Linked DNA regions of Homo sapiens: region 2 is linked to region 1. A link means that fine-mapping ties the variant in region 1 to the plasma level of a protein whose gene starts in the linked region. Region 1 holds a variant in brackets. A gene starts in the other region. All regions are shown on their forward strands.

The links. PIP is the chance, under the fine-mapping model, that this variant and not a neighbour inherited with it causes the effect. Protein levels are from antibody-based Olink assays in UK Biobank. Linkage for the fine-mapping came from a reference panel and not from the study's own genotypes, which makes the PIPs less certain.
Region 2: it holds the start of SEPTIN3, and the variant in region 1 is fine-mapped to the plasma level of the SEPTIN3 protein (UK Biobank, PIP above 0.99).

Annotation. Positions count from the first base shown.
Region 1 is chr9:134,884,996-134,901,160 of GRCh38, forward strand. It overlaps FCN2 (ficolin 2), which reads left to right. Exons shown (of 8, transcript NM_004108.3): 5 at 244-371; 6 at 773-902; 7 at 1,435-1,569; 8 at 2,173-2,528. The coding sequence ends at 2,420. Among named protein-coding and RNA genes, the nearest start is that of FCN2, 12 kb to the left of the region's middle. RefSeq lists an enhancer at 4,810-5,310. The variant C/T (reference allele first, on the strand shown) is at 7,711.
Region 2 is chr22:41,962,962-41,979,126 of GRCh38, forward strand. It overlaps SEPTIN3 (septin 3), which reads left to right and starts at 6,482. Exons shown (of 12, transcript NM_001363845.2): 1 at 6,482-6,716; 2 at 8,513-10,035. The coding sequence starts at 8,532. RefSeq lists a silencer at 13,838-13,907.

The sequences.
Region 1 (16,165 bases):
GAAGGCCGGGTGCCCAGGAGCTGAAGGTGGGGGTGACACTGGGAGGTGGGAGGGCCAGGCCAACTGGCTGCGGCCATCACAGCTGCGTGGCCCTGGGGGCCGTGTCCCTGTCCAGGCCTCAGAGTCCCGCTCTGTTCATACAGACGCCTATGGCCCTGCTTCTTCCTCCCAGGCCTCCCTCCTACTGCCTGTGCCCTGCCCAGGGCTCCTGTCCTGCAGCCATTCCCCGGGTTCCCTTCCCAGGCCCGCGTACCTGCAAGGACCTGCTAGACCGAGGGCACTTCCTGAGCGGCTGGCACACCATCTACCTGCCCGACTGCCGGCCCCTGACTGTGCTCTGTGACATGGACACGGACGGAGGGGGCTGGACCGTGAGTGTGGGGCTGGGCAGAGGCGGTCAGCCTGGGAGTCCCGGAGGCCAGGCTGCACACCTGGTGGGAGAACACACTCTGGAATTCTCTATTCTCCTGGTCGGGGACAGTCAGAGATGATGGGGGAGATGACCGGTGGGTAAAAGTCCAGGCCTTTGGGGGAGGCTGGGAGAGGTTGGGTGCTCTCCTGCTGTGTGGCTTGGGGCTTGTTGCCTCCCCTCTCTGAGCCCCCATTTCCTCCTTCATCCTGTGGAGTCTGTGAGGAGAACAGGTGGGCGTGCTGGTGACCCCGCCTGTGATGCTCTGCCAACTACAAATGCTGCTCCTCTGGAGGGCGGGTCCCCCGTGCTGTGGGACGTCGGCCTGGCCCCCCCGGCTCCTGTCCCCTGGCTTCTCCACAGGTTTTCCAGCGGAGGGTGGATGGCTCTGTGGACTTCTACCGGGACTGGGCCACGTACAAGCAGGGCTTCGGCAGTCGGCTGGGGGAGTTCTGGCTGGGGAATGACAACATCCACGCCCTGACCGCCCAGGGTAGGGCCGCTGCTGGGGCTTGGGGGTCGGGGGCCCTGAATGGGGGTGCCCCTGCCTCTTGGGCCTGGGCTGCCTGGAACACAAGAGCCTCTTGGCCCACAGGGGATTGGGCCCTGAGCACACTCAGGGTGGCACTGGGACCTCCGAGGGCTTCGTCCCTGCTGCAGGCTCTGGCAGCATCGGGACGGGAGAGGGTCAGAGCTCTGGGATGAAGGCCTCTTCAGGTCTTGGCCCCACTGGCATCTCAGGTCCTGAGAGGGGAAGGAGGGACACAGTGGCCCCATAGTGGAGTTTGGGCCCAACCCCAACTCTGCCTCTAATCCGCTAGGATTTGGGAGTCAAGAGTCTTGCCCTGCTGCTCAGCACACCCTGCCGGGTCAGAGCTACACAGGCCCCGGGGATGCTGCGGTGCTCTCCGCCCTCTGCCTCCATGGAGTCCAGACCTCCTTCCAGGCCCTGCCCCAGATCCCCAGCTCCCATGTCTAAAGGTAGAGAGCCCTTCCGCTGAGACCCTGAAACCTTTCTCTAACAGGAACCAGCGAGCTCCGTGTAGACCTGGTGGACTTTGAGGACAACTACCAGTTTGCTAAGTACAGATCATTCAAGGTGGCCGACGAGGCGGAGAAGTACAATCTGGTCCTGGGGGCCTTCGTGGAGGGCAGTGCGGGTGAGTGTCTGCTTGGGGCTGTGTGGCCTGGGCTTCTGAGGGGGGTTTGGGAAGTGGAGAGAGCGTGCTCAGTGTCCTGGTAGCCTTGTGGAAGAGGCCTCACCTCTCTGAGCCAATTCGTCCATCTCTACATGCAGACACTAACATCTGTGCTCTGTGTAGCATGGGGGTCATGGGACACATCAGTGTATGACTGCAGAAATCCCAGCAAGGGCATCTGGTAGGAAGGAAGTCTCTGCAGAGCAGGGACCTATGCACGGTGACAGCAGCTGATATCTCTGCGGGGCATGGCTGGAAGGGGTCTGCCATGATGGAATCCAGAGTAGAGAATGATGATCCTGACCCCTGCCTCCTGTTCTTCTGTGAAATAAACATAGTACACATTAGGTGGCAGGGCTAGACCTAAAGACAATTTGCCAAGACCACTGCCAACAGCAGGGCAGTATTCACTGGAGTCATGGATTGCACTTCTTGGATTGTGCAGTGCACAACCTGCCTAACCATACATGGAGGACACACCAGGCCAGGCCTCAGGTATAAAGACTTATACTGTCTGTAATGATGTTACTGCCTGTAACGATGCTCACATTTCCTCCTGCACAGGAGATTCCCTGACGTTCCACAACAACCAGTCCTTCTCCACCAAAGACCAGGACAATGATCTTAACACCGGAAATTGTGCTGTGATGTTTCAGGGAGCTTGGTGGTACAAAAACTGCCATGTGTCAAACCTGAATGGTCGCTACCTCAGGGGGACTCATGGCAGCTTTGCAAATGGCATCAACTGGAAGTCGGGGAAAGGATACAATTATAGCTACAAGGTGTCAGAGATGAAGGTGCGACCTGCCTAGCCCAGGCCGGCCTCAGGGTCAGGACGCCTCCACACATAGTTGGTTGGGGGGTAGGGTTGGGAGCTTGGCCCTACGGTTTGTAAAAGAAACACATGTCGTGATTCTAAATTGGGTTTGTCTTGCTGTGCGGAAGAGGTTCAAATCCAGCTCTGTTTCCGCAATCAACCCTTTCAGATTTGTGACATTAACTCACCTCAAACCTCTGTCTTTCCTTGACAATGAGTAAGAATGTGTTCCTGACCATGCCAGCAGGAACCTTCCTTAAGGACAAATACAAGACTTTGAAGCTGCGATGGGCTCAGAGTGCAGCCCTGCTCAGGTCCCTGGGCAGGCTAAACGCCTTCCTGGGGCTCGACCATCTGGGCTTCTCTGTGAGCTGGATGGCAGGGAAGTCAGAAGGCACATTGGAGAGGAAGTTTCTCTTGCACTCAGAGATGCCGTTGCCTGTCCAAGGCCCCCAGCCTCGTAGCCGCAGCTCTGCTCACTCTCCCCCGTCACCCAGGCTTCCTGCCGCCTGCTGTCCTGGGTATTCGTGGGATCTGCTCGCTACTTCCTCACAAGCCGAAGCAAGAGTGGCAGTGTGCCTGTGACTCCCTCATCAAAACGGAGAGAGTGGTTACATGAGGCAGGTGTGAGGGACCCGAGCACTCCTGAGGAGGGAAGAACACTCCTCTTGGCCATGAGTGTCCATCCCAAAGCTGCCCTGCAGCCTAGCCCAGTGCAGATTGAATCAGAAAGCCAAAGCCCCTTCCACCCGCTTCTCTCAGGCAAGCTGCCTGCAAGAGAGAAAAGTGTATTAGTGCAGGAGCTTGTGTCTGCTGAGGATGGCACCTGGCCCTCTCCTCTCACCACGTCCGGGTCCTCCTGAGGACCGGTCCCCTGTCCCCGGTCCCCAGCCAGCTCAGCCTGACCAGGCTTTTAGAGGCTCCGCACCCCAGCATCGGCCAGTGCTGACCCTTGTACGGCTGTTTGGGTCCCCGATCACTCTCATAACAGCCCTGCCCTTGTCCTATACCCTCTACTCAGAGAGGATCCAGAAGGGTCCAAGGAGGCCATGATCCCTCCCTGAGCTTTTTCACGCGGGCCCCCTCCTTCCCCTACGAGGGTCCGTCCTGGGTCTTAGCTGGTCTAAGCCCTACACAAGTCATGGAGAGGGCTGTGTGTCTGGGACTTCTCGGGGGAGAGTGCACTGTTTCCTCTGAGTTCCTGGAGGGGGTGCGCCATGAAGATCAGGACACAGCCATCTTCACCTTCCCTCCTCACTCTGGGTCCGAGGCCTGGGATGAGCCAGGACAGCGGGAAGCAGGGATGGCCCTGGGCGTGGCACTTCCTTCCTTCCTGGGCCCGCAGGAGGGGGCCACACCACCCACCCAGGGGGCTGACCCGTCCTCAGGACAGAAACTAGCAAGCTGTCAAACCTGAGGGTTTATAACTAAATGACGGGGTGCTGCCCCTGGAAATTACACCCAGACATCTCTTTTCTCGTAGACCTGGGTCCCTAGCTTTTAGACAGGATGACAAATCACTGACAGGTGCTGACTTTACATGCACTGTGGCCTCACGCTTCAGCCATTCACTGCCAGGCAGTCTTCTAGGGCAGCAAAGAGCTCAGCCACACAGCCCGGGCCACTGTCAGGATGAGACCTGGCGTCAGACCTCCTCTCAGCGCCGCTTACCCCCCATTCTGGGCATTTCAATCTCCAACAGGAGATTTAAATGAAGAAAACACGCACCTCACACAGCTGTAAAGGGAGGAACTGGGAATTTCTCCCAAATCTTGACCCTTGAGTTCTAGAAATGGGGTTCTCCCTGGAATGCATGATGGCATTATTCTGGAAGGCAAAAATAAAGCTATTTAATATAGAAATGTTTTTAGCCTGACAAGCCAGAGATTTTTAAAAATATTGTTTTTTTAAATTTTCTTAATTGAGAGATGAGCTAAAAAGTAACTTTTTCTAAATATTTAATGTAGCTTTGCTATACTTTATAAATACTGTCAAGCTTTGGGGGGGTTTGTTGGGATAAGAAAATGTACTTATAAAAATGCAGTCAGTATGTCAGGAGGCTGGCGTAATTAACACAGCACAGGGAGGTCATGGAGGCTTGTGTAATTAACCTAACATAACATAAATGTATTTGCATGACACGTGCATCGCATGTGCATACGTGTGTGTGTGTGTGCACCTGCGGGGCCTCTGGGAGGTGTAACTGAGGCAGGCATCGGAAGGGCTCTGTAGGACCAGCTGGTACTGGGTGGGCACCTGGGAGCCACAGGTGCCTGCTTCTCCCATCCCCTGAAAGACTTGGCTCCTTCAGGCCACCAGTGCTGCCTCAGGGTGTCTGGCTCCCCTCCAGAGCAGGGGGCTGAGCCAGGTTGGAGCCTAGGCCAAGGCCAAGAGTGTCCCCAGGGCTGGGCTGTCCCTGTCCCTCTGCTGGGGACCGCTGCCTCCCTTCCTGCTCTTCAGAGGTCTCAGGCCTCTGCTGTCGGGAGGGCTGGAAGAAGGGGCAGCAGCTGGCAGGGGGCCTGTGCCCACTAGACCCTAGATTCTTAACTGTAACTGTGGTTTCTGTGGCCAGGCTGGGGGTGACAGAGGCATTCAAGCCAGACTCCATCTTGAATAGGGGCTGGGTGAAATGAGGCTGAGGCCTGCTGTGCTGCAGTCCCAGGAGGTTAGGCATTCTTAGTCATAGGAGGTTGGCAGGACGGGTATCACAAAATACAGGTCAGGATGCGGTAAAGAAGACGGCCAAATCCCACCAAAACCAAGACAGTGACAAAAGTGACTTCTGGTCGTCCTCACTGCTCACTATATGCTAATTATAATGCGTTAGCATGTTGAAGGACACTCCCACGACAGTTTGCAAACACCATGGCAACTTCCGGAACTTACTATGTATGGTCTAAAAAAGGGAGGGACCCTCAGTTCCCTGCCCCTTTCTTGGAAAACTCATGAAAGATCCACCCCTTGTTTAGTATGTAATCAAGAAATAAGTATAAAAATAGCCAGTTAGCAGTCCTCAGAGCTTCTCTGCCTATGGAGTAGTCATTCTTTTGTTTCTTTACTTCTTTAATAAAGTGGCTTTTACTTTATGAACTCGCCCCAAATGCTTTCTTGTGAGAGGTCCAAGAACCCTCTCTTGGGGTCTGGATAAGGATGCTTATTTTCCCCAAAGCTGTGAAGCCTTGCTTTGGCTGGAGTAACTGACATTGAAACCGCCACTGTAAAATTATGACTGAGACAATGAAAGAGATCTGACTTAACCAACTCCATCTTGCTTCTAACCTCCAAGCTGTGCTTGTTCATTCCTAGGCATAGGCTGAACTAACTTTGGGAGGAACTTAGTTTATAGTTCAAAACAAAGATGATAATAGCCCTTTCCCAAAACCTCCTTCTTGCCTGAGGACTAGACTCCTTTTGTAGGACAAATTAGCCACAAGATTAGAAATTATGGTTTAGGAGTCATGCAGCTGAAGGCTACACGATTCTGACCCTCTCTCAACTGCTCCTGAAGTCAGTACTTGGGATATTTTGCAGACCTTGCACTTGATGGATCAGCTGGCACCACCCAGCTCAATAAACTGGCTCGTCTGATCTTGTGGCCCCCACCTAGGAACTGACTCAGTGCAAGAAGACAATTCTGACTCCCTGTGATTTCATCTCTGACCAATCAGTATGTCCAGCTCTTTGGCTTCCCCCCAACCCTGACCAATCAGCACTCCTGGCTCATTCGCTTCCCCCCAACTCACCAAGTTGTCCTTAAACACTCTGATCCCTGAATGCTCGGGTAGACTGATTTGGTAATAATGAAACTCTAGTCCAGTATCCTGCACGGCGGCTCTGCGTAAATTACTCTTTCTCGATTGCAATTCTCCTGTCTTGATAAATTGGCTCTGTCTGGGCAGCAGGCAAGCTGAACCCACTGGGTGGTTGCAACATCAGGAAGTCCCCGTCCTTAGGATGAGAAAGGAGCCCGCCCTGCAGGGCTGGAACCCCATGTATCAGGAAGGTGAAGCAGTGTACTCAGAAAGCTCCTCTGCAGGAGAGAGGGCCATTTAACAAATCTAGGCCCAGGGCAGTCCTCCACCTCTGAGGACTCTCCCCATGAAGGTGTGATGCTCTCTGGGAATGGGAGCACAACTTGACCCTTCCCTGGGATCCTCATTCTCCACCCTGCCCCTGCTACACCTTTTCCAGACCTCATTCTCACTCGCCTTCACCTCTCCAGAATCTGATGTGCTTTCTGGTTTTGTCTTCCCTGTGCTCTGCCTTCCGAGCAGTAGCGGGTGCTCTGTGGAACCCTAGGACCCTTCCATCCTGCCCTTGGGCTCTCAGCCCTTGGGCGATGGATTTGCTGCAGCCTGATCCCCACCCCCTCTTCCTGTCCAGTCTTCAGGAGGAACTGACCGAGCATGGGGCTCTGTGAGGCCTCCTGGCCTTGGTGTCAGTGGCCCTGCCTGGGGCCCTTTGGTCCCTGGTCCTGTTCAGCTGCCTGTACGTGTTTATGGAGACATTGGCCACGTGGCACTATGTGTGGCTTGTGCTCCCAGGCAGGGTCTCAGAGTAGAACTTGCCTCCTTCAAAAGCAAAGTCTCTTCATTTCAGCTGTGAAGTGCAGTGGCATTTTGCCCTCACAGACCTGGGCTGTGTGGCCTTGATCTGTGACCTGACCTCTCTGAATCTTCCTTCTCGTGTAACATGGGATGGCAGGGTGGATTTGAAGGCCCCGGGGAGTAAGAAGAATGTGCTCCCACACTGGGTTTGCAATGTGCTGAAGGGCCAGGAAGCGTAGCACAGCATCACACACCCGGCCCAGCTGCCAGTCCTCCTCCTAGGGCACCCCCTGCCCAGCTGACAGCCCTTGCCCGTGAGGCCTCCCCTTCTGTTCGGGCCTTTCCCTGGGCGCAGGAGCCCTTGGCTATAGGTCTTTGTTGTGGGCTCCAGCCCTGCCTAGCCCTGCCTGGCCTGCCCCTACACCTCCTGTCACCTGCCTGTCTCCTTGGGCTGAGAGTCCAGGCTGTTCTGTTGAGGGTGTTGGGAGCTGTGCCTTGGCATAGGGGTGGCGGGCAGGGATTGACTCTGTTGTGTATCCAGACCTGGGAGAGGAGGATGGAGCCACCTGCTGTGGGCCAGGCTCCAGCAAAGGCCTCCCTCACCTGCTGCCCACACTAGCCAGGGCGGGCTCCCTGGGGTCAGAGCAGAGGCCAGGCTGTCTGCCTTTATTGCCTTCAGAATCTGCTTGAGGGAGAACTGGCTCTCTTCTCTCTCTCCTGGCCTGAGGGACACTGTCT[C/T]CCTCCAATAAGCTGATGGTTGGGAGCTGTGACTGATAGGCACCCAAACCCTGAAACCAGGTGTTCTTGCCTCCATTGACCCAAACCCCCGTGTCCCCTGCCCCTTCCCTACCCCTCACCATGGGTTTCTGAGTTCTTCCAATGACTCCATGCCTTAAGTGCAATTTATAAAAAAAAGAACTGGGAAAGGGCCGTCTTGTGGATTCCAGGCTCAGCTGGCTCTAGGCAGAGCGTAATGTTGCTCACCAAAGGTAGGATGTGGTTTTAGGCTGCATTCACAAAGGCCTGACATCTAGAACAAGGAAGATGCCACACTCGCCTCTGCATAGGTCACTCCCCACCTGTGCCCTGGGTTCTGAGTTTTGCACTTTACAGCAACCAAGATGGAAACACTGCTGGGGAATGGGAGTGGAGAGCTGGAAAGAGCATTCTGGGAAGTGGCCGAAGGCAAGCAGGGAGTAACAGGCAGAAAACATGGCCTGCTGCAGAGCATGAACTGTGCATTTTGGGAGGTGACCCCACGCTAGGAGGACATCACTGTTCCAGGCTCCTGGGCACTCAGGGCCCCTCGCATCTCTTTGTCCCCAGCCTCTCTGGGTGTCTGTTCTTGTCCCTTTATTCCTCTGCGTCCTAGGCTTCTTTCCTCTCCCAGTAGCCTGTAGTCAGAAAGAGTGGGGTGGCCAACTTGTGCCAGTGAGCCTGGGCCTGCCCAGTTTTAGCACTGAGCATCCATCTCCTGGAAAAGCCCTAGCCACCAGGATGGTCGGTTGTCCTAAGAGGAGTCTCAGTGGCCCCAGTCAGATGCAACAGGTAAAAAATCCCCAAAACCACTGGGCACAGTGGCTCATGCCTGTAATCCCAGCACTTTGGGAGGCCGAGGAGGGTAGATCACAAGGTCAGGAGATCGAGACCATCCTGGCTAACACGGTGAAACCCCGTCTCTACTAAAAAAATACACACAAAAATTAGCTGGGTGTGGTGGCGGGTGCCTGTAGTCCCAGCTACTTGGGAGGCTGAGGCAGAAGAATGGCGTGAACCTGGGAGGTGGAGCTTGCAGTGAGCCGAGATCGCACCACTGCACTCCAGCCTGGGTGACAGAGCAAGACTCCATCTCAAAAAAAAAAAAAAAAAAAATCCCCAAAACACTGCATGCCCTATCCTCAAAGTCAGGAAGACACAGAGTTCAGGACACCTGCCCCACTGACCTTCACCTTCTCTTTTCTTCACTAGAATGACACTAATCACTTAGTGAAGAAAGACTAAGCCAAGCCCTTCTCCCACTACCCCCATGGAACATCTGCTGGGTGCACAGCCCTCTCTGGAGTACAAGGCAGTGAATTCCTGCTCTGAAGGAGCCTGCCCTCTCACCAGGAGAACGAGGCCTTTTCCAATAGCATCAGACAAACGGCCTAAATGGAAGACTCAAAGCAGTGGCTCCAGTGAGTCCTGTCCTGTTTCTTTCTTCCAGGCTCAGCCTGAAGTTCTCCTGAATCCTTATAGGAGCCAGAACTCCCCAGTTACTCTCTCACTGCCTGTCTGACCTGAGAGAGAGTTAGGAGGCGGGACGTGACTCTGGAGGCAGGGATTGGACACTGGATCAGATGAGGACTAGCTGAAACAGGGCCAAGGTGAAAGCAGCTTTCAATAAGACACACCCACCCATGTGCCATGTCAGTTTACCATTGCCCACGGCAACACCCAGAAGTTACCACCCCTTTCCATGGCAATGACTTGATGACCCAGAAGTCACCACTCTTTTCCTAGAAATTTCTGTATAAACCACCTTTAATTTGCATTTAGTTAAAAGTGGGTATAAGTATGTCTGCAGAACTGCCTCTGAGCTGCTGCTCTGGGCACACTGCCTATGGGGAGCCCTGCTCTGCAAGGAGGGTAACTTGGCTACTGCTGTACATGGCCGCTTCAATAGAAGTTGCTGTTTGATGCCACCAGCTCACCCTTAAATTCTTTCCTGGGTGAAGCCAAGAACCCTCCTGGGCTAAGCCCCAATTTGGGGCTCACCTACCCTGCATCAGGTGGATGTCCAGATTTAAGTGCAAATACAGACAATTCACATTCCAATCCATACACAAATGGCAAACCCTTGGGGAAGATGGCTGCATCGTTACCGTACGTGCTCCCATCACTCCAGGAGAATTTCTCATTATTGTTTATAAAAGGCATGCCTTGTGGCATTGAGACAGACATAGTGTTATATGTTCACTAAGCCTGTTTTTCCCCCTCCTGAGGGTACAAGAAGGCTGCTTTTCTAAACCTCTCTTGCAGTTAGATGAGACTATATGATGGAGATTTAGTCAATGGGATGTTCACAGAGATTATGCAGACCCCTTTCTAAACTGGCCCCCCAAACCTTCTGTCCCATGTCCTGGTGAGGAACCCCAAAGCCCTCTGTAAACCTGCATTGCACTGCATGGGCCCTGCATTGCAGCACAAGGGGAAATGATGACACTGTGATCCTGAGGGGTTGTTTGTTATAGCAGCTATTTGTGCTTACACTGACTCATGCAGAGATTGGTACCAGAAGTGCAAGAGCGTGGCAACAGACACCTAAAATCCAAGGCACTGGCCTAGCAGCCACATGGTGGGTGGAGGGCTGCAGAGTTTTGTTTGATGAACATGTTGTCTTCAATAACTTGGAAGGCAGTTCCTTGGAACGTCTCTTCCAGCCCCAGGGGATCGACTTGAAAAACAGAACTTTCAGTGTGTGTTTATTTTTATTGGCTGTCTGACTAGGTGTTACAAGAGAAAGAAGAGTTTAGAAAAGAAATTAGCAAGCAGGAAAAAAAATGGATTAAAGAGACTAGGAATTGGAAATCTCGCAGAGTTGGAAAATGCCTGAACATTGTTAGACTCCAAACAGTACGAGATGAGGTTTTAAAAGCACTAGGGTAAGAAGGATCAATGGAATACGTTGTTTTGAACAGAGTGACTCAAAATTGTAGTAAAGATCCTTCCTGCCCAAGCCTGAAAACTTTAAGAAAGACTTCCTTAAGATGAGAGATACAGGGAGGCATGGGGATAAATTGGCAAAGAAGTGCATCAAATCTGAATGAAATATGAGCCAAATTTCTATCTCAGGAAAGAAGATGCCCAGAAGAAATCTGGTTTTTTAAATCACTGCAGGAGTGATTCTTGTCACCATGTCCTGCCCTGGACTATGACCTGGGCAAGAAACAAACTTGCATTGTGTATCAGCCCTGAGATATTAAGATTGCCTGTTAAAATAGCTGCTGTTTCTTATCTTTACAAAGAGGTGGCCCAGGCGAGGAGAGGAGAAACCTGCATTCTCCTCCTGGTTCAAAAACTTACTCTGGGCTTTGTGCCAAGTTGGCCTCCTACTGATTTCTTTAGCTGCACTTGAGCTACTCAGTTTGGTTTTCATTGCCACTGTGACTCATCAGCCAGAGGCCATATGGGTGGGGGGCAGCCAGTTATCTGATTCCTGCAGCTTTACAGGAGGCTGGAAGCCCACCCGCCCACCCCAAGATGTGGCAGAAGTCCCAGTCGGGAAGCCAGCAGAGCCAAGGACAATCTGGATATGTCCATCTGTCCCAAGGTAGCAAACGGGCCCTCCCAGAGCCCTGTGCCTTCCATGACGGCATGGGTGTTCTACAATTTCATTGGGGTTGAAACATGAATCATCAAATCTGAGAACTGGAAATTAAGGGGCAGCTGCTCTGGGTGATCTTACCACCCAGAACTCAAGTCAGTGCCTCTGTAGCTCCCAGCAGACCCACAGGCACAAGAAGCTCACTACTGGCATGAGCAGCCACCAGATCAGTGTGGCCTGGGATGGTGGTGACTGACATTGGAAGGTCTTCCTCTTGTCAAATGCAGTTCTGCTTCTCCATAAAAGCTAATCTTCAAAGTGGGCCAAGTGACCTGTATGGCGGGAAGTCCAAGGTTGTTTACCCCGTACCGTCGGGAAGGGCCTCTACTGGGCTGATGGCCAAGACATGTGAGTCAAGGACAGAACGCACATCCAAAAACAAAAACAAAACCTGGAGCGGCCATCACGTATCCAGCATGCTTGGCTCTGATGAATGCTTGGCTCGGCTGATACCTACCTGGCTTCCCAGCTCCTGTTTCTCTGGGCTGTGCGAGCCTGGATTCTAATTGAAACCCATTTGCGTTAATTCGTTTATCTCTCTTTTCCCTTCCAGGATTGCTGTCTTCTTTAATATGAGTTTGCTCTGATGAGCCAGAAGATCTCCGGGTTTTGTTCGCTTGCACTAAAACCTTCTACTCGGCTCTCTGAAACTAGCACGCTAGTGGTTCCTCAACCTAACTGTCCGTCGGAGCCACCTGGGGAGGCTCTGAAAAATACAGATTCAGGGGCCCCATCCCAGACTTTTAGAACCAAAATCTCAGTGGGTGATGCCTAGAGCCCTCCCTCTTCTCCGCTGATGAGCTGTGGTAGGAAGTCACACAGCAGCACATCAAACAGAGATGACAAGTCAGCCTGCCTCCCACTCCATCTCCAGCCTTCTGTGGGCCATGTGTCCCCAGGCCCCCCACCCATCCCTCAGAATAAAGGTGAGAGAGATCCAAATCAAAAGCAAGTTGAAATGTTTTTAAAACATGCAATAAGGATCAAATTAATTACAGTGAATATTTACATGCCTTAGATAGATTGTTTTATGGGGATGTGGTATTATGACTTGAATCTGTTTCATAAGTGTCACTTATGACACTACGTGAACTTAAAGAAAAGCTTGTACCCTTTGAATCAATAAGCTTACCAGAGAACTTACTCTTGGAAAAAAAATGCAACGTAAGAGAAAAAAGCGTGTACATAAACGTGTTAATTACTGGCTAGGATATCAGTATTCAACGATAAGAGGAAACACTGGATAGATTATAAGTGTTCAACAATAAGAGGATGTCCATTTCCTCCAGTGAGTATTAAATGGCCATTTAAAAAAATGCTCAATGTGCAAGCTCTAGTGACCTGGAAACCTAAGTGTAAAATTAGATCATAGAACTGGAAGTGCCGACTTCTACTTCCAGTAATAATGGGTTAGAAAACAAGGCCAAACTTCCTTCTGAAATCAAAAAAGCTGGGCAAATTTCAGAGATACTCTTCTTAAGCACTAAAGATGATCAGAGTAATGAGGAATTACCAGAATAAGATTCGGCAGAAATAGAAACTCAGAGTGGAGTATCTGTGAGTATCTTTGTCTGGGGTCATTCACCAATCAGAGAGAAGCTTTCAAGTCTGTGTGGGAGTTTTGTCAACTCAGCAGGCTGAAGGGGACCAGGGTACATGTTTAGAGCCTGCCAAGAATGGAGTTTCAGGTTAAGGAACCTGCACTTTAGCCTGACAACTATGTACATGTGCATCCCAGAGGTAAGGATCACCTGCAAGTAAACCAGCTCTCCCCCAAAATTGCAAACTGATTTTAAGTCATATGGGTGCACAGACCATCTCTGGCAATGGCACTGGTTATTAACTTCCAGAACATGCCTGGAGAAGCAAATGAAACCTGTGTTGGAGGAAGACAAAGTATTGCTAGGTTTCAAGTGATCTACATCAACACTTAAAAAACAAAGTTCATAATTTCTATAGCAGTCAAGGTGGCTGTGTTAGTATTCTACTCATGCACAGCAAATTACCACAAACGGCACCCATTTATTAACTCACAGTTCTATGGATCAGGGGTCTGAGTGGGCTCAGCAAGCAAGGTCCTCTGGTTAGAGTCTCACAAAGCTGAAGTCAAGGTGTAAGCCAAGCCTTATGCTCAGCTGGAGATTTGGGGGAGAAGCAGCTTCCAGGGCCATTCAGGTTGTTGTCAGAATCCAGTTCCGTGTGGTTTTAGGAGTAAGGTTCCCATTTTCTTGCTGGCTGTCAGCTGGGAGCTGCTGTCAGCTATTGGAGGCCACTCTCAGGTTCTTTCTAAATGAACCTCCATCTTCAAAGCTTGCAAAAGTGTGTCAAATCACCCTCATGCTGCAAATCTGTCTGACTCCTCTTTTGCTACCTGCCAGAGAAAACTCTCTGCATTTAAAGGACTGTCATGATTAGATTAGGCCCACCCTGATAATCCCTTTTTTAATTAACTCAATGTCAGCTAATTAGCCATCTTAATAGCATCTCAAAATCGCTTTTGTAATGTAACATAACATGATCACTGGCATGATAGCCTGTATTTATAGCACTGGGAATTAGAGCAGAAAATCTTTGGGGTTGAGTTGCATTTTTGAATGATGCTTCCCACAATGGAGTGAGCCCACTGCAGCACGTCAGACATTGAACAAAACACAAATACCTGATGATTTGAAAAGTAACAAAGACAGATTGGAGAGAGAACACAACATTTGTGTAAATAACCTACACAGGGAAAGCGAAACAGAAGTTGCAATCTAAACTTAATTAGGTGCACTGCCTGCTGAAACAACAACAAAGTCAACATTTTCCCAGAAGATGTTTAAAGAATCTCATAACATAATATTCAAAATGTCCTGGCTACATCCAAAATTGCACAAGGGATGTAAAGAACCAGGAAAACATAGACAATTCTGAAGGAAAAAGGCAATCGACATTCACTAATCCTGATATGACCAAGTGCTAGAAGTATTGAAGACTTTAAGGCAGCTATTATAATCATGCTGTAAGGAGTAAGTGCTAACACTCCTGAAGTTAATGGAAAGCTAGACAGTCTCATCAAAGAACTAGAAGCTACAAAATAAATCACATGAAAACTTTAGAACTGAAAAATGTAACAATAGAAATAGCATTTCCCTAGATAGAATCAATACAAGAATGGAGATAACGGAAGAGCCAGTGAACTTGAAGACAGGTCAATAAAAGTCTTCCATTTTGAACAATGGAGAGAAAACGCATTGGGAAAAATAGAGACTTCTGGTTTTGGTAATATGGAGTAGACATACTTTTACCCTATTCCACTCAATAAATGTAACAGATATCCCTGACCTGAAGAAGCTGATAACCTGAAAATACCAAAAGGCACAGATAAAAAAAAAAAAAAAAAGAAGGCCAGTAAAAACCTGCTCTCTCTATCCAAAGGCTCAGGAAGAAGACAGTCCAGCAAGACAGAAAACTTTAGACAATAATTGCTCTATTCCAGTCAAACGCTGGAGGTGACCCATCTCCTCCCCTACAAGCAAAGGCTAGGTAGAGAGCTTAGATTTCCACCTTCATTGAGCTGTAATGAGGCATCCCAGCACCCTCTAGTGCTGGATGGGTTGGTATCAGAAAAGGCACTTTCATCTCCTCTGTGCACAAGCAGTAACAAGTCCCCTCTACTCCTGCAGTGTCAGTGGAGTCTACATGGGGAAACTAGACTTCCACCCCAACCCAGCAGTTATGAGTTGCTCAGCTCTTTCCCCACTGGCTGGTATCAGAGAGGCCTAGTGGAGATTCAGAACTTTCACCATCTCCCAGTAGCAGTGAGTCCACCCCTCCCCTTGTGGTGCCAGTAAAGCCCTCATGGAGAACAGAAAGGAGACACACAACCCTCCTACGCACAGAGGTACCAGGGAAGGTCTCCTGAGGAGCTGGATCTCCTACTCCCACCCAGCAGTAAGGAGGAGTCCTAACATTTCAATAATTACATAAAAGTAAATGGCCTAAATGAACCAATTAAAAGAGAGAGAGATTGTCAGAGTGTATTTAAAAGCCTGACTAAGCATATGCTATCTAAAAGAAACTTATTTCAAATATAATAATATGAGCAAATTGAAAGTAAAAGCATATGGGAAAATGTATGTTATGCAAACATTAATCAAAAGAAAGCAGGAGAGGCTCTACTATATCAGATAAAAGTGACTTCAGGCAAAGAAAATTACCAGAGACAGAATATAATAATAAAAGGTCAACCTACTAAAAATTTAGAGGTTTTTTAGTAGAATTGTTGGATTCTAAATGTGTGCACACCAAACAACAGAGCTACACATTATGTGCTATACAAATAAGGTAACAATGATCTAAACAGCTGCATGTTTCTTACAAGAAACCACTGGGGGCCAGATGCAGTGGTTCATGCTTATAATCCTAGCAATTTGGGAGGCAGGGCAGGTGGATCACCTGAGGTCAGGAGTTCAAGACCAGCCTGGCCAACATGATGAAACTCGTCTCTACTAAAAATACAAAAAAAAAAAAATAGCTGGGCATGATGGTGGGCGCCTGTAATCCCAGCTACTTGGGTGGCTGAGGCAGGAGAATCACTCGAACCTGGGAGGCGGAGGTTGCAGTGAGCCAAGACTGCACCCTTACACTCTGGCCTGGGCAACAAGAACAAAACTCCTACAGAAGAAGAAGGAGAAGGAGAAGAAGAAGAAACCACTGGGGCCAGGTGACACTAAAATAACTTTGTGGTTTTTTTTTCTTTTTTTTTTTTGGAGACAGGGTTTCACTCTGCTTTCTCACCCTTATTCTGCTGAATAAAGGGTGCTATTACATGTTGCAGTAGTGTGA
Region 2 (16,165 bases), not on the chromosome of region 1:
TTAGTGGAGATGGGGGTTTCACCATGTTGGCCAGGCTGGTCTTGAACCCTTGACCTCGTGATCTGCCCGCCTCGGCCTCCCAACGTGCTGGGATTACAGGCATGAGCCACTGCGCCCGGCCCACAGCTATCCTCTTGAACTCTACAGAGGCATGTCACATACCTAGGCCTGGCACCAAGAATGTAATGGAAAAGAGGATGTCCCTGCATCAGAAGAGCTCACAAACTGGGGTTACAGAAGTATAAACAGACAAACTATTATTATTAGTAGTAGTATTTTTTGAGAGGGAGTGTTACTCTGTTGCCCAGGCTGGAGTGCAGTGGTGTGATCTCAGCTTACTGCAACCTCCGCCTCCCAGGTTCAAGCGATCCTCCTGCCTCAGCCTCCCGTGTCTGGGACTACAGGTGCGCGTCACCATGCCAGGGTAATTTTTGTATTTTTAGTAGAGACTGGGTTTTGTCATGTTGGTCAGGCTGGTCTCGAACTCCTGACCTCAAGTGATCCGCCCACCTTGGCCTCCCAAAGTAGTGGGATTACATTGTGCCTGGCCAACAGACAAATTATAAAACTGTACCTGCAGCAAGAGAAGTATGTGTGCAGAACTGGAAACGGAACCGAAGAAGTGCCTAGTTTTTGGGGAAGGGGGTTGTCAAGGAAGGCTTCCCGGAGGACATGACTATTAATCTGGGTTCTGGAGGTGGAATAAGAGTTTTCCCTGCAAAGGGAAAGAAGGCTGCAAGTGTTAAGCCATGGACTCTGGAGAGAACCTAGTCCTTTTTGAGGACTGTGAGTGGTGTGGCCAAAAGACAGAATGCAAGTGAGCCAGTGGCAGGAGGGCAGGCGGATTAAGCAACCAGAAAGTGGCTTTTCAAGGAAGGCTTAGACCCAGACTGAGAACCCGATGACCTTCCTATTACCACCTACTCGAGGAAGCCTTCCCTGGCCCCCCCAGCAGCTTTCCCCATTACAATGCTAATCTTGTGTTGCGATTTTGTTCACGTCAGTGGGGAGCAGTGACCACATCTTCTCATCTTGGCTTGCAGCCTTACTGGCACTGGTCAGGGCCTCCTTAAAAGCTTGCTTGTTGCAAGAATGGGGCTAGTTTCTTTGGAAGTCCTGCCAGGAGTTGCCTGTTTGCTTAGAAACCAAGATTTCAGAAAGGCTTGGAGGTTTCCTGGGCATCAAGCTGTGTGCAGATTTTTAAAATGCTTTGAGAGGTTTTGCAGAGTCCTGGGAGCTTTCCCAACATCTGAGAGCTGTCAGGATGGGGAAGGGCAGGTGTGTCAGGGTTCGGCCCAGAACAGGAGGACAGGAGGCGGGAATGTACAGGGTCCCTGAGTAAGAATGGCTGCAATGTTCGGATTCCAGCCCTGGAGGGTGGCACAGGCTCCTCATTGTTCCGCCCCCTCAGTTCTTCACACTGGCTGAGAAGGAAGGGCTCGGGAAGGCTGAGAGACCAGCTTTGGGAGAAGGGCAAAGACTGCAGGCTCCCTCAAAAGACTATCACAGTCTCAGTCAACCACCCTTACAGAGAACCCCTGGCAGGCAGAGCTTTTTTCTCCCTCCCTCATAAGGTATGACGGGCTCAGTATTTGGAGCCTGGAGACCTAGGTGTCCAGCTACTGATTCACTGTGTGAACCTTGGCAGGTCCATTTCCCTCTATTTCTGCAGCTGTAAACAGCTGGAACTGATGAGAAAGTCAGAGGAAATCATGGAAGATACATAAAAAAGGAAATCAGAGTGCCAAGGCAACAATTTGAATGGCTAACATGGACTGAGCTCATGGACTAGCAATTGCCCATTGCATTTGTTTGTTTGTTTGTTTTGAGGCAGAGTTTTGCTCTTTCGCCTGGACTGGAGTGAAGTGGTGTGATCTCGGCTCATTGCAACCTCTGCTCCTTGGGTTCAAGTGATTCTCCTGCCTCAGCCTCCCAAGTAGCTGCGATCATAGGCGCCCGCCACCAGGCCCAGCTAATTTTTGTATTTTTAGTTGAGATGGGGTTTTGCCATGTTGGCTAGGCTGGTCTTGAACTCCTGACCTCAGGTGATCTGCCTGCCTCAGCCTCCCAAAGTCCTGGGATTACAGGTGTGAGCCACCGCGCCTGGCCCCCATTGCTTTTTTTTTTTTTTTTTTTTTGTGAGACAGAGTTTCGCTCTTGTTGCCCAGCTGGAGTGCAATGGTGTGATCTCGGCTCACTGCAACCTTTGCCTCCCGGGTTTGAACGATTCTCCTGCCTCAGCCTCCCAAAGTAGCTGGGATTACAGGCACGCGCCACCACACCCAGCTAAGTTTTTTGTATTTTTAGTAGAGACAGGGTTTCACCATGTTGGCCAGGCTTGTCTTGAACTCCTGACCTCGTGATCCGTCCGCCTAGGCCTCCCAAAGTGCTGGGATTATAGGCTTGAGCCACCGCGCCCGGCCCCCCATTGCATTCTTATGGCAACCATGCAAGTGGGTCCTCACTGCTGTTCACCAAAGGTTTCTGACTCTCCAGCTATCAGCACACGGTAGGATTAAACTTCCCTGCCTCCTTGTGATGGGTGGGGCCATAAGACTAGTTCTGGCCAATTAGTTGTAATTAGAAGTGAGTACAGGCCGAATGGCTGATGGACTAATGGCTAGTCCACAATTTGTCACTCCCTCCTTCCCTCTGCCACATGACTAGCAATGCACTAGAAGGCAGCCTGGGTCCCAGAGGGAAGAGGGCACAGAGCAGAGCCTTAGTGGACCCAAATTACTGTGGACATGAGACATGGATGAGAAATCAATGTATCATTGCGGCCAGGTGTGGTGGCTCAGGCCTATAATCCCAGTACTTTGGGAGGCTGAAGTAGGAGGATCGCTTGAGGCCAGGGGTTTTAGACCAGCCTGGGCAACATGGCAAAACCCTGTCTCTACAAAAATTAGAAAAATTAGGCTGGACGCAGCTCACGCCTGTAATCCCAGCACTTTGGGAGGCTGAGAAGGGTGGATCACTTGAGGTCAGAAGTTTGAGACCAGCCTAATCAACATGGTGAAACCCTGCCTCTACTAAAAATACAAAATTAGTTGGGTGTGGTGGCACACACCTGTAATCCCAGCTACTTAGGACGCTAAGGCAGGAGAATTGCTTGAAACTGGGAGGCAGAGTTTGCAGTGAGCTGAGATCATGCCATTGCACTCCATCCTGGGCAATAAGAGCAAAACTCCATCTCAAGAAAAAAAAAAAGAAGAAATATTAGCTGGGCGTGGTGGCACATGCCTGTAGTCCCAGCTACTCAGGAGGCTGAGGTGGGAGGATCACCTGAGCCTGGGTAGGTCGAGGCTACAGTGAGCTGTGATAGTGCCACTGCGCTCCAGCTTGGGCAACAGAGTGAGACCCTGTCTCAAAAAAAAAAAAAAAAAAAAAAATCAGCATGTTGTTATCAGCCACTGGGATTTGGGAATGGTTGTTACTGCAGCATAATTTAACTCATTCTGACTGATATAATCTCCATTTTACAGATGAGAGGGGAGCTCAGGGGGATTGACTTGTTTGAAAATCACATAGTTGTAACAAACCCAGGCTTGAAGGACTCCAGAGCCTATGACACTTGTCTGGGAGGCCACCACAATGGTTTTGTGGTTGAGTGGAGGCCTCTGTTCTCTGAGGCCACTTCCAGGCCTATGGATCTTTCCTTTGATGGGAAAGCACCATATGTATAGATAGGAGAGGGCCATTGTCACTTTGGGCCCCTAGAGGGCAGCTGAAACTTGGCCTGTAATTACTGGGCAGGAAGTGTCCTCTAAGCCTCTAAGCAGGGCAGATGGGCAGGAGGATGCGGAGATGAACATGACTCAGGCCTTGCTCTCAAGGCCCTAACAGCCTGGCAGGGAGCGAGATGGAGGAATTGTAGATCTTGAAGTAGAAGAGACCGACCACATGAGGGCATCTGATCCCTATTTTAAAAGGCAACTGAGTCCCAGAAGCACAAGTTAATCTGATAGACGTTGCCTGGTGAATCGTTGGCCAAAGTGGGGAGAGAACCCAGGGCCACTGATTTCAGCCCAAGGCTGCTTATCTCACAGAGATCATGTAATCCAATGGGGCTGGGCCCAGGAAAGTCTCCCTTGCTCCAATCCGTCCAGGCAGAGCTGTGCCTCTCCTTCCCAGCACCCTCTGTTCTTCCTTAAGTCAGGCCAGTTCTCAGGGCCTCAAAGCATGGAAGCGCCAGATAGCTGCCCTCCCCCATCCACTGGGATCCCAGCACGTTGCCCTGGTAACCAGAGCCCAGCCAAGTTTGAGAACCTAAAGCTGTAAGGGGAGAGAAAGGATAAGAAGAGGGATAGGGGCTGGGCACGGTGGCTCATGCCTGTAATCCCAGCACTTTGGGAGGCCGAGGCAGGCGGATCACAAGGACAGGAGATCAAGACCATCCTGGCTAACACTGCGAAACCCCATCTCTACTAAAAATACAAAAAATTTAGGTGGGCGTGGTGGCGGGTGCTTGTAGTCCCAGCTACTCGGGAGGCTGAGGCAGGAGAATGGTGTGATGGTGTGAACCCGAGAGGCGGAGCTTGCAGTGAGTCGAGATGGCGTCACTGCACTCCAGCCTGGGTGACAGAGCGAGACTCTGTCTCAAAAAAAAAAAAAAAAAAAGAAGAGGGATGGGTGCTAGGCCCACACAATCACCATTCAATCATTCATTCATTCATTATTTCTTTCTAAAGAAATTTACCGGTTGGGCACGGTGGCTCATGCATGTAATCTCAGCACTTTGGGAGGCTGAGGCAGATGCATTACTTGAGGTCAGAAGTTTGAGACCAGCCTGGCCAACATGGTGAAACCCCGTCTCTACTAAAAATACAAAAATTAGCCAGGCGTGGTGGCACACACCTGTAATCCCAGCTACTTGGGAGGCTGAGGCAGGAGAATCCTGAGGCTTGAACCCGGGAGGCGGAGTTGCAGTGAGCTGAGATCCCGCCACTGCAGTCCAGCCTGGGTGACAGAGTGAGACTCTCAAGAAAAAGAAACTTACTGAAGCCAATTTTTGCCAGACCCTGGGGCCCAGAGAAGAAGATCCAGGACCTTCATAACTGAGCTTTCCACCCAGGCATGGTGGCTCACGACCGTAATCCCAGCACTTTGGGAGGTGGAGGTAGGAGTATTGCTTGAGCTCAGAAGTTCGAGACCAGCCTGAGCTACATAGGGAGACCCCCGTCTCTACAAAAAATAAAAACTTAGCTGGGCGTGGTGGTGCATGCCTGTGGTCCCAGCTACTCTGGAGGCAGAAGTGGGAGGATCACTTGTGCCCAAGAGGCTGCAGTGAGCCATGATGGCGCCACTGTCTTCCAGCCTGGGCGACAGAGTGAAACCCTGTTCAAAAAAACTAATAACAACAACAGCAACAACAAACGAAACAGAGCTGAGCTAATATGGTAGCCACAGATTAAAATAAACTAAAAAATCCAGTTCCTTGGTCACTGTAGACACATTTTAAGTGATCGGTAGCCATCTGTGGCTAGTGGCTACTGTACTGGACAGCACAGACATAGAACATTTCCATTATCACTGAAAGTTGTATTGCCCAGCGCAGCTCCAGAAGCTCACTCGCTAAAGAGAGAGACACACAGGAGAGCAGACCAGACAACACAGTGTTGTGTGGGCTGCAATGTCCTCCTCGGTAAAAAGCAGGTGATGAGGCGGAGATTAAAGGAGATGCCAGGAGAATGCTTAGCCTAGTTCCTGACTCAGGGTGAGTGCTCGGAGGACATCTGCCATCACCGTACAGGACAGTACTATAGGATCTGTTTACATACCTATCTTCCTAGCAGACTGTGAGCTCCGCCCAGCCCTGGCATGGTGCCGGGCACAGAGCAAGTGCTCAGGAAATAGTAGCTGTTATCAGCACCATTGTTATTATCACCACTGCTATGACAGAGGCAGCCGAGGGCTGTGGGAACACAGAAGAGGGCTCCCATCCCAGCCCCAGGGCCAGGGGCTGCTGAGAGTCGGCATTGCCAGAGCCAGGCTGGGTGGCTTTGTGGTCCCCTCAGGGGCAGGCCTAGGGCGGGGTCCTCTTCACACCCTTAGGGTCTGGGTACAGGGTCCAGCTGGAGCAAGCTGGGGCTCAGGGAATAGTTGTGGAAGGAGCTCTAGCCTCCAGGAACTCCAGCCCCCTTGAGGAAAGACCAGGTGAGTGGGCAAGATGGTCTGAGGGTTGCAGAGCTGAACAGGGCATGAAGGGCACAGAGGCAGAGCCAGAGGGAGACTCGCGCTGGGACTACCAGAGTGCAGCCATATTTGGAGTACCCCTGTTTTTACTGCAGACTCCCCAGGCATCAAAGTCTGTGGGAGACAGAGCAGATTTGGGGAGGGCAGGCTGCAGGGAACCTCCCTGCAGGTGGCCGTGAGTGCCAGCCTGGCCGTTACCAGCCTCCCATGGCTCTTCAGGATTCCAGAGGCTCAGAGCAGCCATTCACAGCCGCCCACTCCTAGGAAGCCAGCCCCTCCCTGCACCAGAGCCCAGCCCAGCACGGTCTCCGGGGATGTAGCTGGTGGGACAGTGAGCAGAGGGCTGGGCCCTGTGCCTGGGGACTGTGGCCTGGAGGCTGAGCAGGAGCTGAGGAGGGGACCAGAGGGACAAGGCCCCTAAGCTGGCCACCATGGCCAGACTCTGAGTGCAGGGGAGGTGAGGGGCCTGCGTGTGCCTTATCTTCCCAGACACACTGGATCCTTCTTGTCCTCTGATCAAGGTAGGTGTGTAGGGGGGTGGAAGGGTGTGGGGGTTTGTGGGGGTGGGAGGGTGGTGGGGGTGGGGTGGGGAAGGACCAAGCAATCCATGGAAGATGGGAGTGCAGTGAGGGGATGGGGAGTCGGGTGATGCCCTCGGACACCCTGTCCTCTGGCCTGCTCTGTGTGTGGGTGTGCACACTGAGGGGAGCTGTTTGTGGCTAAGTGCAGGGTAAACGTGTGTGCCCAAGTGGATGTGGCTGTGCAGGAGGGGGCAGAAGTTCAGGGCTGCAGTGATAGGCCAGGTGGGAAAGGGTTGGAGGCCAGGACAGTCTTGGATACAAATATATGGCTGGAGAGGGATGAGGGGCTGGGGGCACCATTGTGAGGGGTGATGCCTTCCCTGTCCGGTGCCCTGCCTTCCCCGTCCCTGCTGCAGACCTCAAGGACCTGGCTACATGATCACTCCCCTCCCCATGAGCCCTCTGGAACTGACTCCTCCCACCAGCCCTGGCCTTGTCCCCCAGCTGCAGGTCCCAGCCTGCTGTGTTAAAAGCAACCAAACCAACTTTTTTCTAGAGGGTGAGTTACTTGGAGTCCAGAGTAGCAGGGAGTGGCCCATCTACTAAGACCACAGCCAGAGTCCTGAGCTTCATCCTCGACACCTCTTTGTGCCCACTCCCTACCCTGGGCAGTCCCGCCACTTCTACCCCTGTGCAATGCAGCCTCCTCCAGCCCCAGCCCTAGCTCTGCCCCTTGCACAGCCCACGGAGCAGAGAGTTTCAACTATGTCCTCATGGGATCCTGGCTTCAATTCTGTTCCCATCTGATCCCTCTGTCACACTGCCCGAGTGGCCGTTCCCACCTACAGATCGGAATGGGTCACATTCCCTGGCCTAAACTTTGCTGTAGCCTGGCCTGGACCCCAGCTCACCTGCAGCCTTGGCTCTCCCCTCCCTGCTACATACAGCCTAGGAGCCCCATGTTGGATTTTCAGAAAGATGCCACACTTTCTCACCTTTGGGCCTTCTGTAGGAACAGCCCCAGCTCAGGTCTAGCCTCCCGCCTTTCTACCCCTAATGCTTAGCTTGGTGGAGCCCTGCCTACTTCCTTGCCTGGCATCCCTGGGCATGGCAGCCTCTTCAAGGGCGGGGACCATGGCTTGTTCACCAGATAAGCTCCTTCTGTGAACACTCACTGCCTCTCCATTTCCCATCCTCACCTTCTCCAGGGCTGGCTCTGTTTCTGACTCCAGCACTAGGCCAGCTCAGGGCTCTTTCTTGGTTCTGGGGCTCTAAGCCAAATTGGTCCTCTCTCATCCTGCCACCTGGACACCTGAGCTCCTATGTTGGCTGCTGTGGGTGGGAACCCACAGCCCTTTGGTTCTTTCTGGAAGAGAAAGGGAGAGACGTCTCCAGTAAGCACTGCCCTCCTCTGGAGTCCCTGAACATGTATGTGACCTCCATAGAGCTGTCCACAGAGACAGGGGCCACACTCAGGCCCAGGCAAAGGGAGACGTAAGCCCAGCCTGAGATGCCCCATGCTGGAGGCAGACTGCTCACTGGACGTGCCCACCCCACTGTGTGGTGGCTGGCCGGGGTGGGGTAGGTATGAGGTACAGATCAGTCTGCAGCAGGTAGGAGCCGTAGGAGGACAGGAGGAAGTTACATGCATCCTCCACTAAGGACTGGACAGTCCCCAGAACCAGGCCCCTTCAGACCCGGCATGCTCAGCTGCTGGTCAGGAAGGGGAGAGCTGAGACCTCCAGGCCTGAGCTCCTCACCCCTGCCTGGCCTCTTCTCTCTGTTGATTGCCTCAGGGAAAGACAAACGACCTGGATGGACCACAACTTTGCTCCTGCTCCTCCAGAGATGCAGTCGCATGGAGCTCCAGGCCCGGGAACCTCCTTCTCCCATAGCCATGTGCTGGGGCGCCCTATCCGCCCCTCGAGACTCCCTGGAGGAGGGTCCCCCCTCACCCCCGTCCTCAGGAAGACCATCCATCTGGATACCTTCCCCCAAAGCCATATCCCACAGACCTCCAGCCGGCTGGGCCTTGGAGCCAGGACCCGGAGTGTGCCCCCACAGGAGACGGGCATCGCTCTGGGGGCTTCCTTGAGCCCCCTGCCCACCAGCAGCCTTGTACCCAGGAAGCTCAGCTCCATCTCCTTGACTCTCCATCAGAACAGCCAGGCACGGTCCCTGGATCGCCCACTTTCTCACTGGGAAGAGTTGCCTACCCCAGGAAAGAAGGCTGCTCCCCATGAAGGAGGGAGGGTGTCCTCGCCAGGCTCGCCACCTGTGACCCTAGTGCCAGGGGGCAGGGTCCACTCTGAGGGCCCAGGGAACCCAGGTCTGACCAAATCCAACAGGATGCTTGCCACGGAGAAGCCCCTGGTGAGTTCCTACCTAGCCTTACCTTTCCAATCCCGGTTAGCCCAGAGTGCACCAGTCCTTGCAGAGCCAGGCTCGTTGGGCCAGGGGCACCTTGTCTCAGTGACTGACCACATGCCTACCAGAGCTTCTCCAGGAAAAGGCAAGCCCCGGGCCAGGGGGATCCCCAGACCCCGGGGGCGTCTCCAAAGGGCCAACACGACTGTGAATTTGACTGCTATGGACACAAGGACAGACGCAGCCAGACATTTAGCCACAATGGCCACCAACAGACCTAGCTTGGCTATCAATTTAGCCACACCAAACACATCCCAACTGGACACAGGCACAGAGTTCCCTGCCCTGGATATCAAGCTGGGCACAGCCAGAGACTTGTCTTCGGTAGGGACAGTCAAGTCAGGCAAAACCGTGAACTTGGCTACAGCAGGCACAATCAAGCCGGGCACAGCCATGAATCTGACTACAGTTGGGACAACCAAGCCAGGGATGGTCATGGATTTGATAGCCTCAGAACCAGACAAGCTGGGCAAAGCCATGGCTACAAGAAGCACAGCCAAACCAGATATGACCACAGAGGGTATAGCCATGGATTCAGCAACATCAGACCCAGTCAAGCCGGACACAATCACAGCTACAGTGGGCACCAGTAGGTTGGAAACAGCCATGGCTTTGGCCAGAGTGAACAGAGCCAAGCTGGGCACGGCTAAGAATTCTCTTGCTTTGGACACAAGCAGGATGGGCACAGCTGTGGGTTCAGTTGTGCCAGTAACCCCAGACCCAGCCACTGGGAAGACCACACTGGGCAGTGTTAATAACCTAACCATATCAGACGTTGCTACATGCCTGCTAATGCCAAGCAGATCCACAGACCTAGCCCTGGACAACACTAATGCTGCCATGGACAGAGCCACAGAGCCTGCCTCACTGGACCTGGCCACAGAATACAAAGGTAAATGCAGAAACTTGGTTGGGGATGGACTAGGCTGCCGGGAGGGGGAGGTGTGTGAGCTTGGAGATGGATCATGCTTGCATGGGTTGAGAAACGGAGGAAGGACTCTAAGGTCAGGGTTGAATGGGTTGGGAGAAAAGGAAATGGGGGTTGTAGGGCCAGACATAGGGACTGTACCCTGAGCTGGGTTCTAACCTGCCAGTCTGAGGTCAGGCTGAGGGAAACTATCAGAAAGAAGGTTTTGGCCAGGTGTGGTGGCTCATACCTGTAATCCCAGCACTCTGGGAGGCTGAGATGGGAGGATTGCTTGAGTGCAGGAGTTCAAGACCAGCCTGAGAAAAATGGTGAGACTGTCTCTACAAAAAATAAAAAATAAGGGGCTGGGCACGGTGGCTCACGCCTGTAATCCCAGCACTTTGGGATCTGCCCAAGGCGGGCAGATCACAAGGTCAGGAGATCGAGACCATCCTGGCTAACACGGTGAAACCCCGTCTCTACTAAAAGTACAAAAAAAAAAAAAAAAAAAATTAGCCGGACGTGGTGGCGGGTGCCTGTAGTTCCAGCTACTTGGGAGGCTGAGGCAGGAGAATGGCGTGAACCCGGGAGGTGGAGCTTGCAATGAGCCGAGATCATGCCACTGCACTCCAGCCTGGGCGACAGAGCGAGACTCCGTCTCAAAAAAATAAAAAAATAAAAAATAAGGGTTGGGCACAGTGGCGCACACCTGTAATCCCAACATTTTGGGAGGCCAAGGCGGGTGGATCACTTGCGGTCAGGAGTTCAAGACTAGCCTGGCCAACATGGTGATACCCCGTCTCTACTAAAAATACAAAAGTTAGCCAGGTGTGGTGGCACATGCCTGTAGTCCCAGCTACTTGGGAGGCTGAGGCACGAGAAGCACTTGAACCTGGGAGGCAGAGGCTGCAGTGAGCCAAGATCGTGCCACTGCACTCCAGCCTGGTGACAGAGTAAGACTCTGTCTCAAAAAATAAAATAAGATAAAATAAAATAAAAAATTAGCAGGGCATGGTGGCATGCATCTGTGGTCCCAGCTACTGGGGAGGCTGAGGTGGGAGAATTGCTTGAGCCCAGGAGGTCGAGGCTGCAGTGAACCATGATTGTGCGACAGAGCAAGACCCTGTCTCAAAAAAAAAAAAAAAGAAAAGAAAAAGAAAGGTTAACAGGGGTAACTTGTGGAGGAGCAATTATGGTGAGTCCTCCTTTCAGCATCTCCCGGGATTGTTTGTTTCCTGAAGACCTGGAATAATCAGGTGATCAATAGGTGTGTCCACCTTTAAAAGCAGTGGCTCACACCTGTAATCCCAGCACTCTGGGAGGCTAAGGCGGGTGGATCACGAGGTGAGTTGTTCAAGACTAGCCTGGCCAGGCCAGGCGTGGTGGCTCACACCTATAATCCCAGAACTTTGGGAGGCCGAGACAGGTGGATCACGAGGTCAGGAGATCAAGACCATCCTGGCTAACAAGGTGAAACCCCGTCTCTACTAAAAATACAAACATTAGCCGGGTGTGGTGGTGGGTGCCTGTAGTCCCAGCTACTTGGGAGGCTGAGGCAGGAGAATGGCGTGAACCCAGGAGGCAGAGCTTGCAGTGAGCCGAGATTGCGCCACTGCAATCCAGCCTGGGTGACAGAGTGAGACTCCGTCTCAAAAAAAAAAAAAAAGAAAAAAAACTAGCCTGGCCAACATGATGAAACCCCGTCTCTACTAAAAAATACAAAAAATTAGCCAGGTGTGTAGGCTGAGACAGAGAATTGCTTGAACCCGGGAGGCGGAGGTTGCAGTGAGCTGAGATTGCGTCACTGCACTCCAGCCTGAGCGACAGAGCGAGACTCTGTCTCAAAAAGAAAAAAAAAAAAAAAAAAAAAAAAAAAAGCAAGCCTCCTACCTCCTACGTGAAAATACTGACTAGCGCTTTAGGAAGTTGTGATTTGTCTAATAGGTAGTCTCTGCAGCCTCCTCTGGATGTGAGATAATGACCTCACTCGAGACTTTCCAAATCCATTTACGCTCAGCCTTTTAGGAAGGTATCTGTTGCTTAAAAGTTGTCTTACCTGAATGTCTCTTTCTTGGTCCCCCACCCCCAGCCCTTTAATCCTGAAAGGTAAGTTGGAGCCTTGTATATATGGAAGTCCTACACAGAACTCTAAAATAGGGCAACACAAGGGCTGGACATTCATTTGGTCTTAGAAAGCCTGTGACATGCCTAAAGTCACACCAAAGCTGGCTGGTGGCAGTAAGCTGATTGGAATCCAGATTGTTAAAATCTCTACTTTGGGCAGCCTCATTCCCAACATTTCAAGGGCTCAGAGTTTTTGGGTCTGGAAAGGTGCCTAGAAGGCATCCAGTCTAATGCCTTAATTGAGTCGTTAGATTGTCAGACCCCTTTCCCTCCACCCCACACACTCAGTCTGGGCACCTCACCTAAATTCTGGTCTTCACTTCTCCCTACGAGATCTCAGCTCTCCCTCCATCTGCAGCCCAGCCCTGTCTCCTGAAGTGCAGATGTGGGCAGCCAGCAGCCTGCTAGGCTTATCTACCCGGATGTCTCCCGGGCATGTCCAGAGGTAGCCCTTTTCTTCTTGAACTGACTCCTGCCTCCCTGATCTCACTCTCTCAGCTGTAGGCATTGCCTACCTTTTATTAGGTGCCTAGAAACCCGGGTATCCTCTTCTTCCTCATCTCTCTCTTGCCATCTCATCCAGTCTACTTCCCACCTTGTTGGTTTACCTCCTCAGTACTCAACTATCTGGCTGGCTGTCCCCTCCTCTCCATCCTTCTGCCCCTGTGAGGCCACCTCCCACCCACCAGCTTGTTCCCTGTCCACACACAACTGCTGCAACGACTCCCACATTGAATGGCAGCACTTTCGGCTTAATATTCGTCAGTGACTCACCATTACCTTCCATTAAAATCCAGCTTCCAAGGCTGCGTGCGGACTTCTCCAGCCTCTTATTTAGCTCTACACACCTGTCTGGAATTTTCTCTGCTTCAGCGACACCAAGGACTCTGGGCTGTCCACCAGCACCACGCAGCTCTCACCTCTGGAGACCCTCACCTCTGCTGTCCTCTCTTTGCAGAATACCTCTCCCTTTCCATTCTTCCCTTCCACTCCCATTTGCCTTTCCATCTGGCCCTCATCTCCTCCAAGAAGTCTTCCAAGCCCCCTCTCCCCAGGGTGCCCACCTGCCTGCACCCTCAGTTCCCTGTGTGCACCCCGGCCCCTGCATTAGGACATTCCATCTTCCTGTCTCCTCCACTAGACCCAGAACCTTCGAGGGGAGGGATGGTTGTCCTCACCCCTGTGAGGCAATATGCTGTCCATTAGTATCCACTGAATGCGTGAAATTTTTTTCTAATGGGCAAACTGAGGCTCAGAGAAGTTCCTGTCTGGCTCAAGGTTATTGGTTCATCATTCTGGAGCAGGGCCTGGAACCCGGGCCCCTGACTCGGCTCTACAGGCACCCGCGCAACACCCCAGCCCCCGCGTGACTCACGCGCGCTCACGGCCGCCCGCAGCTGCCACTGGTCCCCTGCGCCCCTCCGCCCGTCCCCGCCGCAGCCCAGTGGGTAAGGGGCGGGGAGCAGGTCCAGCGGGGAGAGACGGGACTGGGATGCAGGCACCTTTCCGGGCCTGGCACCTGGAGCCCGCGGGGGCGGCTCCTGGACCGCCCGCAGCGTGGACCCGGGACCAGTTCCCGCTTGCGGGCGCGGGCGCCGCGGGAAGGGGAGGGGCCCTCGGCGGGGCCGACGGGCGCGCGGTCACGTGGTGCGGGTGGCAGCGGCGGCGGCTGGCGGCGGCGGCAACGGTGCGCGCGGACAGGGGCGGCGCGGCGCCGAGCGAGCCGAGGCGAGGTCCCGGGGAGGGCGCGGCGGCGCGGGGCGCAGGGGCGGCGCGGCGGGGCCGCGGGCCGGGCGGGTGGGAGGAGAGCGCGAAGGGGCGAGGCCCGTTTGCAGGGGCCGCTCGGCCCGGGGAAGCCCGCGCCCCGCTCAGCCTTGCAGCCCCGCGCCCGGAGCATCTCCCTGGAGGAACGGAGACAAAGGAGGATTCATGTCCAAAGGTAGGGCGGCCGGCCAGGCCACCGGCACCCGCCAGGAGGAGGCTGCGGCCCCGGCCAGCGCGGCTGGAGGCGCTCCTGGGGGAGGGTTTCCGCGCCGAGGAGCCCACGCGCGGTGACAGATGCGCGGACACACGCACACACGGTGGCACCCACCTCGAGAGAGACAATCTTGGAGAGAGGCAGACATAGGACGCGGGGAGACGCAGGGACCCACGGACACGCAAGCAGGGACCCAGATGCGCACAGAAAGCCCCATGCTGGAGTACACCAAGACACGCACACACACACACACCACGCACAGGTGCCAGGGCCATGCCAGCCGGATGAGAGACCTGTGCACTGATACATACGTCCCCTCCCCCGCAACCCCTACAGGCACACGCTGAGACAGGCACCAGCTGGTGGTCTCCAAGGGAACCCGTTGGCCTCCAGAGGACTGGGATGGGGGAACGGGTGTCCCAGGGCCCTCTGCTCCTGCGAATGGGAAAGGACCGAGAGAGCTTTCGTGATTCCTTTTCCCAGAGCCTAGGGCTGGAACTGGGGTGGGCTGGAATTGCCTTTGTGGGGGGCGGTGGGGTCCTGAAGGCTGCGGGGGGCTGAGGAAGATCCATCTTCAGGGTGGAAGGAAGAGGGGGGGCCTGCACTAAGCAGGTGCTATTTTGGAAAAGTACCCTCCCCCAGCTGCTACCTTCCTAACACAGGGGTGGGGTCCCTGGGCCAGACAAAGCCAAAGCCATTCATTTGCCTGTAAAAGGAAGTGCCAGGGTCTTTGCTTAGCATGGGAATGGAGGGGCTGTTTCTTGGCTGCAACCGAGTCAGGTGGATGGTGCCTCTCCCTGGAGCACTGATGGGGCAGGTAGCTTCTGGCAGAGGGTGCTGCAGGCAGATCCCCCTTCTCCAGGGGCCCTAGGAGAGCCAGGAGCTGAGGGGGGCCCCAAGGACCATCTAGCCAGGATGGCAGACTTGAGCTGCACCCTGCTGTGACCCGAGCTCTTCCCCACCCTTGGGGAGCCCCCCTCCAATCCTTGTTGCAGAGGAAGGAGGAGGTCTCAACAATTCTACTCCCTTGACTGTGGCGGAGACAACAGCCATTGCTCACTGGGGGGTCAGCTGCTCTGCATGGGGAGAAGCATCTGAGGGAAGAGAAAGGTGATGTGTCTGATACCTGCCTCACTCTGAAGTTCTCATTCACTCATCATTCATTCATTCACTTATTGAGGAGTGCCTGTGGTATGCTGGGTAGACTGGGGCACAGAGATCAATAAGACACGGCCCCGCCCTAAAGAAGGGTGAGAACTAGTACGTATTTGTGCCAGATAATTTACATTCTTCATTCTGTATAACCTTCATAGAAACCCAGCAAGGTAGGTTCTATCCCCAGTTGTCTGAGCAGAAAATGAGGCTCATAAGGGTCACCCAGCCAGGATTCAAGCCTGGGTCACCTGCCCATCTGACGTTGACATGGTGGGACCAGGGGAGTTGTAGGGACAGAGGATGGAACTACAGAATCCAGCTCCAGAGCAGCATTGGTTCTGTGCCCCAGAGGTCTTTGTTTATTTGTCAGGCACCCTTACCAGACAGGGGGCCCTCAAGGGCAACAACCTTGTCTGGGGTACATAAGTGTCCTTGGAATTTCGCCTAGGGCTTGGCTGGTGTAGACCCCCATTTGACAGCATATGAAATGGCCTAGATGGGATGGAATGAATGAATGAGTGAATGTGATGAGTACCAGAAAATGTGCAGTGGGCACAGAAGAGGGCCATCCACATCAGAAGGCAAAGCAGAGGCTTTCCTGGGAGTAGCAGTGGGGCTGAATGCTGGAGGAGGAGGAGGAGGAGGAGGAGGAGGAGGAGGAGGGAGCCAGGGGTTGGAGGGGGAACAGGATCTTCCAGCAAAGCTTGTGGCACAGTGACCTGCACACATTTACTGTACTTGGGGCTGGTGGGTGGCTTGTTAGCATGTGACTGGCATGTCACTGGCATGTGGTGGGGAGGCTGACTTGCCAGCAGGCGCTGTGTACAGTGCACACAGTGGGTGCTCATATGTGCTTGT